2 separate regions of the Homo sapiens genome follow, and region 1 is linked to region 2. The links come from fine-mapping of genetic effects on gene expression. A gene starts in region 2. The other region holds a variant in brackets. All regions are shown on one strand. Distances are between the middles of the regions.

Region 1 (8,337 bases), 45 kb after region 2:
TATATACACGTTCACACATGGAGAGTACTAAAGGATCTGTGGGCATCTATATGTGTGTATGTGTGTGTGTATGTTTGTGTGTGTGTGTGTGCTTATGTTTTGAGTTCTAGATTAAATATTGAATTGTTGGTCAGACGTGGTGGCTCATGCCTATAATCCCAGCACTTTGGCAAGCCAACATGGGCGGATCACCTGAGGTCAGGAGTTTGAGACCAGCCTGACCAACATGGTGAAACCCCATCTCTACTAAAAATACAAAATTAGCTGGGCATGGTGGCACAGGACTGTAATCCCAGCCACTCAGGAGGCTGAGGAAGGAGAATCGCTTGAACCTGGGAGGTAGAGGTTGCGGTGAGCTGAGATCGCGCCATTGTGCTCCAACCTGGGCAACAAGAGTGAAACTCCGTCTCTTTTAAAAGAATAAATCTCGAATGTTTTCTAACAATCGAAATTACTTTTTCATTTGACATTGCATTGGAAACATTATTCCACAACAATATAAATTTAAATATACATTGAGATTATTTTTTTCCAATTTTTATTTTATTATGTTTATTTTATTTTATTCGGGGGTACATGTGCAGATTTGTTACCTGGGTATGAGATTCTTAACATAGATTTCAGTGTATATAATATAACCAACTCCGTTAAGATTGGAAATTTAGATATTTGTATTATAAGCAATGTTGGGTTAAGCTATGTTAATGGATCTTTGTCCACTTGCCTAATTATGTCCTTAGGATAAATCCTAATCAGTGGAAGTGTTGATTCAAAGACTATCATCTTTTTTTTTGTTTGTTTTTGTTTTTGAGACAGAGTCTATCTCTGTCACCCAGGCTAGAGTGTAGTGGCGCGATCTCGGCTCACTGCAACCTCCACCTGCCAGGTTCAAGCGATTCTCCTACCTCAGCCTCCTGAGTAGCTGGGATTACAGGCACCTGCCACCATGCCCAGCTAATTTTCTTTTGTATTTTTAGTAGAGACGGGATTTCACAGTGTTGGCAACGCTGGTCTCAAACTCGTGACCTCATGATGTGCCCGCCTCAGCCTCCCAAAGTGCTGGGATTACAAGCGTGAGCCACCGCGCCGGCCTATCATCTATTCTTAAGTATTTTGATACCTGTTGCCTAAATTGCCCTCCTGAAAAGTTACATCAATGTATGCTCCAACCAGCAGTGTTCAGGAGGATCCATTTCTCTACAACCTCACTGACACTGAGTATCAAAATTCAGAAAGGTTGAATATACAGTACAGTCAATACTAGTATACTCTTCATCCAGATTAATGAAATGTTAACTTTTTGCAATATTTATTTTCTTTTTTTTTCTGGATTGTTTGAAAGTAAAACATTATTTTTCTGTCTCTTTTTCTTCCTTTTCTTTCTTTTTTTTGAGATGGAGTTTCACTCTTGTCTCCCAGGCCGGAGTGCAATGACATGATCTCGGCACATTGCAACCTCCGCCTCCCGGGTTCAAGCGATTCTCCTGCCTCAGCCTCTCAAGTAGCTGAGATTATAGGCATGTACCACCATGCCTGGCTAATTTTGTGTTTTTAGTAGAGACGGGGTTTCACCACGTTGGCCTGGCTGGTCTCGAACTCCTGACCTCAGGTGATCTGCCCGCCTTGGCCTCCCAAAGTGCTGGGATTACAGGTGTGAGCCCCATGCCTGGCCTTTTTTTTCTTTTTCTTTAAAAAAATTTTTTGACACCAGTGTCACTCACCAATAAAAAATTTATTCTTTTTGTTTTTTTTTGAGACGTAGTCTCAAGAGTGCAGTGGTGTGATCATGGCTCTCTGCAGGCTCAACCTCCTGGGCTCAGGCAATCCTCTTGCTTTAGCTACCCAAGTAGCTGGGACTATAGGTGTGTGCCATTGCATCCAGCCAATTTTTTTTCTTCTTCTTTTTTTTTTTTTAATGTAGAGATGGAGTTTCGCCATGTTGCCCGGGCTGGTCTCTAACTCCAGGGCTCAAGTGACCCACCCACCTTGGTGTCCCAAAGCACTGGGATTATAGGTGTGAGCCACCCTGCTCAGCCAAAAAGTTTATTGTTAATTTGATGTGTATCATGGTCTTCAGCCCTAATTTCAATAACCTATTGGGTGCTTGGGATTACTTGTACATGTACCACATCCTACAGTTTTATTATACCTAGTGATCAAGCTTTGGGCAAAGGAGAAATTCAGTTTTCAGTAGCATCATTGGAAGTATTATGACTTGTGCTTAAACTTTTACCAGTGCATTCTTTTGATAAATAGAAATAGTAACAAAATATGAATTTTAAATATGTGGGGAGATACATAAAGAACATTGCTTATTTGTTCTTGAAAATAACAGTGATTCAAATATTTCATTCAGATTTACCTATGCCTAATGAAAAAAATGATGCAGAACTTGATTCTCCACCTTCAAAGAAAAAAAGATTAGGTTTTTTCCAGACTTATGATACAGAATATTTAAAAGTTGGTTTTATTATCTGTCCTGGATCAAAAGAAAGTTCACCAAGGCCACAGTGTGTCATTTGTGGAGAGATCTTATCCAGTGAAAACATGAAGCCAGCAAATCTTTCTCATCATTTGAAGACAAAACATTCAGAATTAGAAAACAAACCAGTAGATTTTTTTGAACAAAAATCTTTAGAAATGGAATGTCAAAATAGTTCTTTAAAAAAGTGTTTACTAGTTGAAAAGTCACTTGTGAAAGCTTCTTATTTAATTGCTTTCCAAACTGCTGCAAGCAAGAAGCCATTCTCCATTGCTGAAGAATTAATTAAACCATATTTAGTAGAAATGTGTTCAGAAGTTTTGGGTTCAAGTGCTGGAGACAAAATGAAAACTATTCCACTTTCTAATGTTACAATTCAACACAGGATTGATGAACTATCTGCAGACATTGAAGACCAGCTGATTCAAAAGGTCAGAGAGTCAAAGTGGTTTGCCCTTCAGATAGATGAGTCATCAGAAATCTCAAATATCACACTTCTTTTGTGCTATATTCGTTTCATTGATTATGATTGTCGTGATGTAAAAGAAGAATTATTATTTTGCATTGAAATGCCTACTCAAATAACTGGCTTTGAAATATTTGAACTAATAAATAAATATATTGATAGTAAATCTCTGAATTGGAAACATTGTGTTGGTCTCTGTACCGATGGGGCTGCAAGCATGACTGGCAGGTATTCTGGTTTAAAAGCAAAAATTCAAGAAGTTGCCATGAATACAGCGGCATTTACACATTGTT[T/G]TATTCACCGTGAACGTTTAGTGGCAGAAAAGTTGTCTCCATGTTTACATAAAATTCTTTTGCAGTCAGCACAAATTTTAAGTTTTATAAAGAGCAATGCATTAAATTCACGTATGTTAACAATTTTGTGTGAAGAGATGGGATCTGAGCATGTGAGTTTACCGCTTCATGCTGAAGTACGTTGGATATCAAGAGGGAGAATGTTAAAAAGATTATTTGAATTACGACATGAGATTGAAATATTTTTAAGTCAAAAGCATTCAGATTTGGCCAAGTATTTTCATGATGAGGAATGGGTTGGAAAGCTGGCCTACTTATCAGATATATTTTCACTTATAAATGAATTAAATTTAAGTCTCCAAGGAACTTTGACTACTTTCTTCAATTTGTGTAATAAAATTGATGTATTTAAGAGAAAGTTAAAAATGTGGTTGAAGCGCACACAAGAGAATGATTATGACATGTTCCCTTCATTTTCTGAATTCTCAAATTCATCAGGCTTAAATATGACAGACATCACAAGGATTATTTTTGAGCACCTGGAAGGACTTTCTCAAGTGTTCAGTGACTGTTTTCCACCAGAACAAGACTTGCGTTCAGGAAATTTGTGGATAATTCACCCTTTTATGAATCACCAAAATAATAATCTCACCGACTTCGAAGAAGAAAAGCTAACAGAGCTATCTTCAGATTTAGGATTACAAGCACTATTTAAATCAGTGTCTGTAACTCAGTTTTGGATAAATGCAAAGACAAGTTACCCAGAACTCCATGAAAGGGCAATGAAATTTTTATTACCCTTTTCAACTGTTTATTTATGTGATGCTGCCTTTTCAGCTTTGACTGAGTCAAAACAAAAAAATCTGTTGGGTTCTGGCCCTGCCCTAAGACTTGCAGTCACATCTTTAATTCCAAGGATAGAAAAATTAGTGAAGGAGAAAGAGTAGCAATATGCACATTGCTTAACAGTGAAGTCAATAATCCTGTGTTAAGTTTTGTATAAGTATCCTAAAAGATAATTTCCTAATGTGGATTTGTGTTTTCAGTGATTAAATGTTTTAATAATTTTTCCCTTTTTGTTGAGGAATTTAATAATTATGATTGTTATAAATAATTATGTATAATTATAATCTAGGGTAGAAAATTTAGTTATTTCATTAAATTTGGACTAGTGACAAAGACTGCAGGTAATGAGAAGCCCAGTTTATAATGTAACAGCACAACCTGGATGTTGAAACAGCTTGGCCTTTAGAAGCAAGTGGAACATTTCAGTCTTCTAGCCAACCAGCTACTTACCCCTGCAAGGTTGTGAGTAGGTGGAAAAGATAGATCTTTTTTTTGAGATGGAGTTTTGCTCTTGTTGCCCAGGCTGGAGTGCAATGGCGTGATCTTGGCTCACTGGAACCTCTGCCTCCTAGGTTCAAACAATTCTCCTGCCTCAGCCTTCCAAGTAGCTGGGGTTACAGGCATGTGCCACCATGCCCGTCTATTGTATTTTTTTTAGTAGAGACGGGGTTTCACCATATTGGTCAGGCTGGTCTCTATCTCCTGACCTCAAGTGATCCACCTGCCTCGGCCTCCCAAAGTGCTGGGATTACAAGTGTGAGCCAACGTGCCCAGCTGGAAAAAGATAGATCTAAGCAGCTTGGGTAACTATAAATGGAAGCAGCAGGGGGATTTGAGACCCCTGCTTGGGGCCTTTCTGGCCCAATATACCAGGGCTTAGCAAACTTTTTAAATAAAGAGCCAGATAGTAAATATTTTCAGCTTTGCAGGCCATACTGTCACAACTACTCAATTCTGCAGTTGCAGTGCAAAAGCAGCCATAGACAATATGCAGATAAGTGTGGCTGTTTTTAAATAAAACTTATTCATGAACACTGAAATATGAATTTCATATAATTTTCCTATGTCACACAAGCTTCTTTAAAAAATGTTTTTATCATAAAAAATGTAAACAAACATTATTAGCTTGGGGGAAGGGGAGAAGCATGGAAAAAAATCAGACATCTGGCCAAATTTGGCCCATGGTTTGCCCATCCCAGCTTTAGACAGATTTCCAGGTAAGAGCAAATGGGCCAGGAGTGGACTGTAGGGCTTGGTTCAGTGAAAGCCTCTCTATCCATGCAAGTATCTGAATTTTCAAACACCTTTCACATTTCATTGTCAGCCGAGATAAATTAGAGGGAAAAGATATCTCAGGCAAAGAGACTTATTTAATAATTAATGGTTATTGATTTATTACAATTTTATAAATTAATTTACTAATTTACAAATAACTTTCTGAGCTCTTACATGTGCAGGCACTGTGCTAGGCCTGTTACAAACTCTGGAGAACTGAGTTATCCCCATATACAGATGCAGATACTGAGGCCCTTTGGGGTGGGTGACAGCTCAGATCCCACAGCTAGTGTGGCACAGGCAGGAACGAAGCCCGGGGTCTTTTGATGGTAGCTGAACCGCACCCAGACACCCACCCGTGTCTGCCAGCACTCCGTATTGGCTGGGAAACACTCCCTGAATCCAAAGGTGCCTGTTTAGTCAGTTACCAGCCAGTGGTCCTCAAGTGTCCCCACCTGTAAGATGGGGGCGCCCTGCCCCAGTACTGCAGCCTCGCGACCCCCTGGAGGGTGGGGGACGGTAGCTCAGGCGAGAGTCTTCCGGCTGCCCCGGGGAGGGAGGAAATGAGCCGGCGGCAGGGGCGGGTTTTCGGCGGGGCCAACCCACGGTGGGGGGAGCGCGGCCATGGCGCTCCTGCTTTCGGTGCTGCGTGTACTGCTGGGCGGCTTCTTCGCGCTCGTGGGGTTGGCCAAGCTCTCGGAGGAGATCTCGGCTCCAGTTTCGGAGCGGATGGTGAGCGGCGCGGGCGGGCGGCAGGGGATCGGGCCCGCGGCGGCGTGTGCTCCGCCCTGCCGCTCCTCGCCCCCGGCCCGGCAGGCCGCCTTCGGGCTTCCGAGGCTCAGCTGGAGCTGGGGGAAAGCGCCTGGCTTTCGACTGAGGCGCAGGTCCTGCCTGGGGAGTTCCTCGAGTTCTCTGGATCTTCCCTAGACGGAAGGGGACAGAACCTCCCCTTCCTGCAGAATATTGGTGGCCCCAGGCAAATCTAGAGCCTTAGGAGGTCCCTCCCACCCCCCCGGACCCTGGGGGAGGATGATGCGGTGGGAAAATGAGCTCACTTCCCGCTCTCTTCCCTCTTTTCGCCGTTTGCTTCAGTTTTTGGGAGGTTCGTGGGGTTGGGGTGTAGTAATCCTGGCTTTGCAGGGAAGGAAGCCCGCCCTGAAGGGCAAGTATATCTGCTAAAGATTGCACATCTAGTCAGGAAGCAGGACACAAGCTAGACACTCCTAACTCGGAACCCAGAGAGGGAAGCCTCTCTCGGAAGCCTGAGAGGGATGCCCTGAAGTCGTCTTTCAGCCTTCTGTCTAGTTCCAGACTCATGGGAAAGCTTTCATATCCTGTTCACCAATCTCCCCAGTCCCTCAAAAGAGCCAGACTTGTAGACCTCTGCTGGCATCTCTCTCCAAGGCCTGGATAAATCCCCAGAGACAGACAGCTTAGAGCTGCTTCCCAGCAGAGCTGAGGAGGGGAGGTAGAGCTGAGGAGTGGGAACAGGAAAAAGTATCCCCGAAAGTAAGGATGAAGTTGTCATTTGGCTCAGGGGAGGGCCTGCCTTGACAAGAAGAGTCACTTTGAGCCCACCTAACTCTGCCTCACCTCCAAATATTCCCTGTACAGCAGCCTTAAGAGAAACCAGGCCAGACACAAAGAAGGAAACTGTGGAATTCCCCAGGCCTTGGCACTAGGGAGCCAAGCCCAGCCCCCTCCTCCTGGGATTTGGGGCTGGGTTGTAATCTCTTGAGAGGTCTAGTGAGAAGATCAATCTCTGTACCACTTGGAGCATGGAGCCTGTTTCCTGATTCCAAAGCTCAGCGCCACAGGGCAGCCCTCTCCTCTTCAGGCTGACCTCAGCCCTGGACCTGACCTAGAGTAGTAGTTCTTTTCTCTGGGAAGTTGAGGGCACAGGCATAGATATGCCATGGAGCATCTGGGGAGCTCATCCTTGTTGAACAATGAGGCTAACAGGCATTCCTTGCCACCCCTAGAATGCCCTGTTCGTGCAGTTTGCTGAGGTGTTCCCGCTGAAGGTATTTGGCTACCAGCCAGATCCCCTGAACTACCAAATAGCTGTGGGCTTTCTGGAACTGCTGGCTGGGTTGCTGCTGGTCATGGGCCCACCGATGCTGCAAGAGATCAGTAACTTGTTCTTGATTCTGCTCATGATGGGTAAGGGGGCCAACTGGCCTGAGAAAATGGGGTCTTCTGGGGGAGGATTATGGAAAGACCTGGCTGTTCCCCCTTACTGTTGCCACCCTTCTTTTTTCTCTGGGATCAAGAGCACTTTCTGCTCTACCACAGTTTCCATGGTCTTCAAACTAGCACAGGTATTTTTTTTTTTTTTTTTTTTTTTTTTTGAGATGGAGTCTCGCTCTTTCGCCCAGGCTGGACTGCAGTGGCACTATCTCTGCTCACTGCAACCTCCGCCTCCTGGGTTCACACCATTCTCCTGCCTCAGCCTCCCGAGTAGCTGGGACTACAGGCGCCTGCCACAGCGCCCGACTGATTTTTTTGTATTTTTAGTAGAGACAGGGTTTCACCATGTTAGCCAGGATGGTCTCGATCTCCTGAACTCGTGATCTGCCCGCCTTGGCCTCCCAAAGTGCTAGGATTACAGGCTTGAGCCACTATGCCCGGCCTAGCACAGGTACTTTTTAAACTTAATGTGCTAGAACATTATCACATGTTAAGTGTACCTTCTACCTCCTCAATTCTAATGGCTGCATAGTATTGCCTTGTGAAGATATATTGCAAGCTCAGCGCCTCTGCTCCTTCCTCCACACATCCACTCCTAGGATGAGGGGATGGAGGAGCAGCTGCCATTTGATGCATGTGTCTGGCAGATTGGTGTAGAGAGCAGGGAAGCTGGAGAACCTTGAACAGGAAGGCAGAGAATTTCCCTAGGGAGTCCCCCTCAAGTAGCTCTGCCCACAGGAACTGCTGATGTACAAAGACAGCTGTTGCTTCAAAGGCCAGATATC
Region 2 (8,337 bases):
CTAGAAGTCTAAAATTAAAGATCGGTAGGGTCATGCTTTCTCTGAAACCTATATGGGAGAATCTTTCCTTGCCTCTCTTAGCTTTTGGTGTTATCAACAATCCTTAGCATTCCTTGGCTTGCAACTGCAGTACTTCAATCTCTGTTTCCATCATCGCATGGGGTTCTCCTCCAATGTGTATGTCTTCATATCTTCTCCTCTCTTAAGGACACCAGTCATAATGGATGAAGCGCCCACCTTCCTTCAGTGTGGCCTCATCTTAACTAATTACATCTGCAACAATCCTATATGACTAAATAAGGTCCCATTCTAAGGGTTAGGACTTCAACATATCTTTTTAGGTGACACAATTCAACATAATGAATAACAAATACCAATTCTCCAAAACAGGCATACCACTTCAGTATAATACTAAACAAAATCCCAATGGATTCTAAAATTTGTAAGGAAAGTTTTGTCACAACTGACAAGCTGATTCAAAAATTTACATGAAGATGCAAAGGACCAAGGAAAGCCAAGATAATCTTGAAGGACATAATAGGAGGGAGGACTTTTTCTATCATATACTAAGATTTATTATAAAGCTATTACAGAAATTAAGACAGTATGGTATTTCCACAAGGAGAAACAAAAGGAACAGCCTTCATAGTCCTGAAATAAACCCACACATATATAGACAACTGATACATGACAAAGGTGTCAATGCAGAACAGTGGGGAAAAGGACAGTCTTTTTAAAAAATAGTGCTTAATCCATGCAAAATTCACATGGAAAGGTTGAAATCTGACTTACCTTACACTATACACATAACCCAACCACAGATGGATTATAAAACTAAATGTGAAAGACTAATAACACTTCTAGAAATTTTCTTCATTTGGTAGGAAAATATTTCTTAAGAGAATACAATAAGCACTAAGCACAAAGGGTTTTTTTGTTGTTGTTGTTTGTTTGTTTTTTGGATGGAGTCTTGCTCTGTCACCCAGGCTGGAGTGCAGTGGCATGACCTCAGCTCATTGCAACCTTCGCTTCCTGGTTCACGTGATTCTCCTGCTTCAGCCTCCCGAGCAGCTGGGACTATAAGTGCACACCACCATACCCGGCTAATTTTTTTTTTTTTTCCTGAGGCAGAGTCTTGCTCTGCCACCCAGGCTGCAGTGCAGTGGTGCGATCTTGGCTCACTGCAACCCCTGCCTCTGGGGTTCAAGTGATTCCCCTGCCTCAGCCTCCCTAGTAGCTAGGATTACAGGTGCCCACCATGCCCAGCTAATTTTTGTATTTTTAGTAGAGACAGGGTTTCCTCATGTTGGCCAGGCTGGTCTCAAACCCCTGGCCTCAAGAGTTCCGCCCGCCTCAGCCTCCCAAAGTGCTGCTATTATAGGCATGAGCCACTGTACCCGGCCACAAAGGTCTTTTAAGTTCATCAAAAGACACCAATAACAGAGTGAAAAGGCAAGCTACCGAGTGGGAGAAGATATTTGCAATATATACAGTAGTCCCTCCCTTATCCATGAGGATATGTTCGAAGATGTTCCACAGATGCCTGAAACCTCCAGTAGTATCAAACCCTATATATGCTATGTTTTTTCCTATACATACATACCTATGATAAAGTTTAATTTATAAATCAGGCACAGAAAGAGACTAACAACTAACAATAGAACAATTATAACAATAGACTTTAATGAAAGTTGTTTAAAACTTATGAATTATTTGTTACTGGAATTTTCCATTTAATATTTTCAGACCGTGGTTGAGTGTGGGTAACTACGACTTCAGAAAGCAAAACCGTGGATGAGGGGGGCTAGTGTATATTCAAAAAAGACTTATCTTAGTGTATTCCTGATTGCCAAAAGAAAATGCCACAGACTGTGTAATTTATAAATAGTAGAAATTTATTTCTCACAGTTCTGGAGGTTGGCAAGTCCAAGATCAAGGCACTGGCAGATTTGTTGTCTTGGAATTACTCTCTAATTCCAAGATGAAACTTTGTTGTTGTCCTCTTGCTGGGAGGAACATTGTTATCATACAGTGAGGGGTTAAAAGGGCAAAAGGAATGAATCTTTGTGAAGGGCATGAATGCCCTCTTTTGTAAGGGCATGAATCCCATTCATGAGGATGGAGTCCTCATAGCCTAACCCCTCCCAAAGGCTCCACTTCTTATACCATCGCCTTAATGTTTAAGTTCCAATATATGAATTTTGAAGGGACACATACATTCAAACCATAGCAGGATTCATATCTAAAATATATGCCCATAAGAAAATGTCAATCCAATACAAAAATGAGCAAGAGACTTGAACAGGCACTTATGGGGGATATCCAGATACCCAAGGAACAAGAAAATGGGCTCATCCTCATTAATAATCTGGGAAATGCAAATTAAAACCACAGTGAGATACCACTATGCCCCCATCAGAATGGTTATAATTAAAAAGATATGCAGCAGTAATTATTGGCAAGGATGTTGGGAAACTGAAACTCTCATACATGGCTGAAGGGAGTATAAACTGAAACCACCATTTTCTAAAATTGCCTGAGATTATCTACCTAAATTTTACATATACATAACAAGCAATTTCACTTTTAGGTATGAACCCAACAGAAATGTGTGCATATGTATCACTGTTAAATAAAACTTGTAGGCCATTGTTTCGGGCTAAGCTCCTGCAGTAGGTCTCAATGAACCAGACTAAAAATCAAAATGGAGTCACTCACACTGAGGTTCCATGTCATCAAATGGAAACTACGTTGTTATTTGAAGTTCTGAAAAGTCAGGAAAAAGAGATAATAAGAGTCTAATTTCCCCTGAGTGCCAGTTTCAATTAGCATAATAATGAAATTTCTTCTGCTTTAATCGTTACCAAAAAAAGATAAACTGAAGTTACCTGATGTTAACCAATCAGTTATTTCTCTATTGTTTTGTTTCTTGGTTCTGCTTTACAAGGAAATTAACTTATTTATTTATTTTTTGGAAAGTTACTTTGAAATGAACCAATCTGTTTTTTGTTCTTTACTTCTGCTTTCTCCAGCCCTTCTCTGTCTATAAAACCTACCTCTTCTGCTCAGCTCATTGGAACACTTGTTCTATTTTATGGAATGAAGTGCTGCCAGATTCTAGAATCACAAATAAAGCTAATTGAGATATTTAAATTAAATTTGTTGTAATTTTGTCTTTTAACATCACCAATGACAAGAATGTTCACAGAAGCATTATTCCTAATAGCCACAAATTGGAAACAACTCAAATGTCCATCAGTAGTAGATGATTAAAATTGTATCATATTCATAAAATAGAATACTATACAGCAGTCAAAATGAATGAACAGTCACAAATCATACACGTATCTGTGAAACAATGTTGAATTAAAAAAACCAAATCTCAATTTTGAGCAAGTTTTTTCATTTATATCTCAAGAGATTAAAAAATTATACCTCTTAGGGTTAAATGGTGAGGATTAAGTGGGATGGTGCATGTGAAGTGCTCAGCAAGCCAAGTATTATTTAATATCATGCTCTCTCAGTAGGCCACCTTTCAGGAAATGGGCACTAAAGGATGCTACAGATTAGCTAGGTGTGGTGGCACGTGCCTGTAAGCCCAGCTACTCGGGAGGCTGAGGCAGGAGAATCGCTTCAACCCAGGAGGCGGAGGTTGCAGTTAGCCGAGATTGTGCCACTGCACCCCAGCCTGGGCAACACAGTGATACTCTGTCTCCAAAAAAAAAAAAAAAAAAAAAAAAAAAAAAAAAAAAAAAAAAGAATGCTATAGAGCACTTACAGCGCCTTCTAACGCCATCTCCACCTTTTCACTATTGAGCCTCGGTCTCTTTAAGAAGTGAACCATAATTGAGGAAAGAGGAATGCTGGGAAGTTCTACTCAGCTCAGGTCCGGAGCCTGACGGGAAAAGAGGGCGGAGACCAAGGCTGCGCAGGCGTGGTTGGCCGGTCGTTGCGTTGGGATGGATCAGGCGGAATTCCAGAAGAGAAAATAATCCCTGTCTAGATGCAGAGGACTTGGTTCCTATTCCAGTGCTCCTCCGGTAGCAGGGAGGCGACAGAAGGTGGGTGCGGCCGCAGTGGTAGTGGGCGGGACGGCGGGGCGGAGGCCACACCACGTGACGAGGCGTTGCGGCGGGGGCGGTGCCAGGTGGGCTACGCGGCTGGGGCGGCTGCGGATATCGCCTTAGGGACGCGTTGACATTCACTGGCTAGTCCACCGCTCTCAGTCGGAGACCACATTGCCTCGTTAGTCCTCAATGATGGGAGTGGGAATTCTTGGTGGGAAGGAGAATTTCGGAAAGCGTGCGGTTCTCAGAGGAGGGATGAGCGCCCGTAGATATTTTGTGGCGAGTGCGCAAAAGTTCTCATTTCTTCTTTGGAACAGGCTTTTCAACCAGTTGTCCGTTTCCATCCCGGACTATTCGGATAAAGACAACTTTGAAGAGCTTTTTGTTTTAGGTTTAATTCGTCCCGTTTAGTTCTTTGACTTTTAGGGGAAGGGAATTTACTGAATGGCCAATTGAGTTTCTTTTCTACAGGAAGGCGATTGTGAAGCGGGGCTCTGAGGGGCTTGATGCCCCCCACCCCTCACACGGAGACCTTGAAAGAGGCAGGTGACTCACTTTCAGTAAGGGCGTTCCTGTTGTTCGCCTGCGATGGATGGCATCTTGAGCTCACATCTAGCGTTAGGCCGAGAAATGGGGCCCTTAGGGAGGCTTCCAGTGAAGGTTGAGTTATAGGTCAGGGCCGGGAGGTTGTTGTGCCCCTCTTTGAGAAATAAAAGCCGACGTGGGCCTCTAAGTACTGATTCTTATGGGGTCAGAAACTATTTCTTGAGTCCGTTCTTCTCAGAGTTTATTACTTCCTCCCACGTCTTGGTCTGCTGGTCTAATTCCCTTCAATAACCTTCAACATAGGAAAAAACCAGAGTGTGTTGTGTGTCTTTAAAGATATTAGAGAAGTGGGAGCTGTTGCCCCAAAACTGTTTTCTTATGTAGCTACTGAAGGAACAGAAAGCAGGAAGAAAGAAAAAAGTTAGTTGTGGCCCCAGAAGAGTTGTTTTTCAAATGCCGAGCCGTGAAGCCTCATGCACTCAACACAAAGTTTTTCTTTCATATAGATAAGCCTGAAGAAAAAAGAATAAGCCTGAGTATGTATTTTAGGTGTCCAACTATCCATTACCAAGAAGAAATCTATTCGTTTGAGCCTGAGACACTCTTTGAGGTAAAAAATTAGAATGAAAGAACCTTTGGATGGTGAATGTGGCAAAGCAGTGGTACCACAGCAGGAGCTTCTGGACAAAATTAAAGAAGAACCAGACAATGCTCAAGTAAGCATTTCATCTTCATTTAAAAATTTAAAAAAATTCCTTCTTTTCCATCTGGTCAACTGAAAAATTTTAGTTAAACGGCTTCTGGTTTGTAAGTTTAAAATAACCCAAACTGAGACAGGCTCTCGCTGTCGCTGAGGGTGTAGTGCAGTGGTGCGATCTCCTTAGCTCACTGCAGCCTCCACCTCCCAGGCTCAAGTGATCTTCCCACCTCAGCCTCCTGTGTAGCTGGGACCACAGGGCACACACCAACATGCTCAACTATTTTTTTGTATTTTTGGTAGAGACGGGGTTTGGCCATGTTTCCCAGGCTGGTCTCAAACTCCTGAGCTCAAGCAATCCACCCACCTTGGCCTCCCAAAGTTCTGGGATTACAGGCATGAGCCACCATTCCTGGCTGGTTTTTTGCTCTTTGAATGAAAGCTATAACTACATGATTTTTTTGTGTGTGGAAGGAAAGTAATATATTTACCATTTTTCCATACTTGTCACTTAAAAAAAATTCTCTTGTATCTGGTAGTACTTTCCTTTATTCTGTTAAGAATTTGTGGTCTGTGCTAGTCTCTGGGGATCCAGGATTGAGCAAAGTCAGCTTAGTCCCTTCCCTTGTAGAGCTTATATGTTAGTAGAGGAGGCAGAGATTACAAAAGTATTGGTCAAGTAATATATATAATTACAAACTATGACAAGTACTCTGGAAGAAAAGCCTAAAATGGGGAATCTGACCTAGTTTTGGTTGTGGTCTGCCTGGGGATGGCTAGGGAAGGCCTCTCTAAGGGAAGGATGTGTAAGCTGAATTATGAAGAATGAATTGATTAGGCAAAGGGTATGGAGAAGAGTATTACAGACAGAGGGAACTGTGAATAGGAAAGCCCTGAGTTGGAAAGATGCATGGTTCTTTTTAAGACCTGCAGGAACAGTGAGCCTGGAACAGAAAAGGTATGAAAATGGTGATGATGATAATGATTAAAACAACAACAATAAAAATAGCTGGCATTAGTATATCAGTATGTAGTATATATTATATCATAATCATATGTGACATTATTAACTTAATATTTATATATGCTTAAGAGTGTGTCAGGCACCATTCTTACCACCATATTATTATCCCCATTTTACAGATGAGGAAACCAAAGCTCAAAAAAGCCAAATAGTTTACCACAGATCACAGTTAGTAGTAAATGACAAAGACTGGATTCAAATCCAGGTGGTCAGACTCCAGAACTTGTGCTATTCTGCTTCTCTATGATAAGGCTGTATATATAGTTTAAGGCTGGATTATGTAGGACGTAGCAGACCTTGTTATAAATTTTGGTTTTTATCCTAAGAGCAGTAGATAGCCATTATAGGGTTTTTTGTTTTTGTTTTGAGATGGAGTTTTGCTGCAATGTTGTAATCTTGGTGGCTCACTGCAACTTTCACATCCCGGGTTCAAGTGATTCTCCTGCCTCAGCCTCCCCAGTAGCTGGGATTATAGGCGCCTGCCACCACGCCTGGCTAATTTTTTGTATTTTTAGTAGAGACGGGGTTTCACCATGTTGGCTAGGCTGGTTTCAAACTCCTGACCTCAGGTGATCCACCCACCTCAGCCTCCCAAAGTGCTAGGATTACAGGCGTGAGCCACCACACCTGGCCAATTGTAGGGTTTTAAGTGAGAAAGTAAGATGAAACAGATTTGTGTTTGGAAAGATCATTCTGGCTACCCCATAGGGACCCAGAATGGAGAGCACGGAAATCAATGTGGAGGCTGGGCACAGTGGCTCACGTCTGTAATCCTAGCACTTTGGGAGGCCAAGGCAGGCAGATCACGAGGTCAGGAGATCGAGACCATCCTGGCTAACACGGTGAAACCCCGTCTCTACAAAAAATACAAAAAATTAGCTGGGCGTGGTGGTGGGCGCCTGTAGTCCCAGCTACTTGGGAGGCTGAGGCAGGAGAATGGCGTGAACCCAGGAGGCGGAGCTTGCAGTGAGCCAAGATTGCGCCACTGCACTCTAGCCTGGGTGACAGAGTGAGACTCCGTCTCAAAAAAAAATAAAATAAAATCAATGGGAGAGATGAGTTAGTTGTTTTGGCAAGGAATTTTTCTTCTGGGACAGTTCTTTCGCTTTACACTCAAAGTTATTGACTTTATTGTATCAGCAAAGCAATTATATTTTAAAATAATAAAAAACAATTTTATTTTTCACACCATCTCACAGGCAGTATCATTCCTTTTTTTTTTTTGAGATGGAGTCTTGCTCTGTCACTCCCAGGCTGGAGTGCAGTGGCGCGATCTTGGCTCACTGCAACCTCCGCCTCCCAGGTTCAAGCGATTCTCCTGCCTCAGCCTCCTGAGTAGCTGGGATTACAGGTGTGCGCCACCACGCCTGGCTAATTTTTTATATTTTTGTTAGAGACTGGGTTTCGCCATGTTGGCCAGATTGGTCTCAAAACTCCTGACCTCAAGTGCTCTGCCCACCTCGGCTTCTCAAAGTGCTGGGATTATGGTTGTAAGCCACCATGCCCAGCCACAGGCAGTATCATAAGAAGACAGGGATGTCAGGTAGGTTTTGTTTCACTCATGAACTCTATGCCTTGCTAGAGTGCTGGGCTAAGAAGAGTTCTGAGGTAGTGTCTGTTAGATGTGGAGTGGGGGATGGTGGCATCCATGCTACTTGTTTTCCCTCCAGATGGTAAATTCTTACTCTTTCTCTGCCTAAAGTAACCATTTCTTTGCCAGGTTTTGTGGTTTTTAGCTTTTAAATATTTTTTGTATCTGACCCATGATGTTCTTCTATATTTCATTATTTCTCTCTCTCTTTTTTTTGTTTCCTTTTTTTGAGACAGGGTCTCACTTTGTTGCCCATACTGGAGTGCAGTGGTGTGAGTATGGCCACTGCACTCTAAACGATCCTCCCATCTCAGCCTCCCAGGTAGCTGACCACAAACATGCTCCACCACACCCAGCTAGTTTTTGTAGAGACGGGGTCTCCTTATGTTGCCCAGGCTGGTCCTGAACTCCT

Evidence for each region. PIP is the estimated chance that this variant, and not a neighbour inherited with it, causes the effect.
Region 1: its variant is fine-mapped to the expression of ZMYM6 in whole blood (TOPMed, PIP above 0.99).

Annotation. Positions count from the first base shown.
Region 1 is chr1:34,982,955-34,991,291 of GRCh38, reverse strand. It overlaps TMEM35B (transmembrane protein 35B), which reads left to right and starts at 5,945. Exons shown (of 3, transcript NM_001195156.2): 1 at 5,945-6,094; 2 at 7,345-7,525. The coding sequence starts at 5,987. ZMYM6 (zinc finger MYM-type containing 6) reads left to right here. Exons shown (of 16, transcript NM_007167.4): 16 at 2,357-5,127. The coding sequence ends at 4,188. RefSeq lists silencers at 5,967-6,256, 6,317-6,386. The variant T/G (reference allele first, on the strand shown) is at 3,242.
Region 2 is chr1:35,027,539-35,035,875 of GRCh38, reverse strand. It overlaps ZMYM6 (zinc finger MYM-type containing 6), which reads left to right and starts at 3,931. Exons shown (of 16, transcript NM_007167.4): 1 at 3,931-4,061; 2 at 5,163-5,329. The coding sequence starts at 5,237. It overlaps LOC124903990 (a long non-coding RNA gene), which reads right to left and starts at 3,156. Exons shown (of 2, transcript XR_007065739.1): 1 at 2,719-3,156. RefSeq lists enhancers at 3,742-3,921, 3,578-4,102, 4,103-4,629 and a silencer at 4,092-4,211.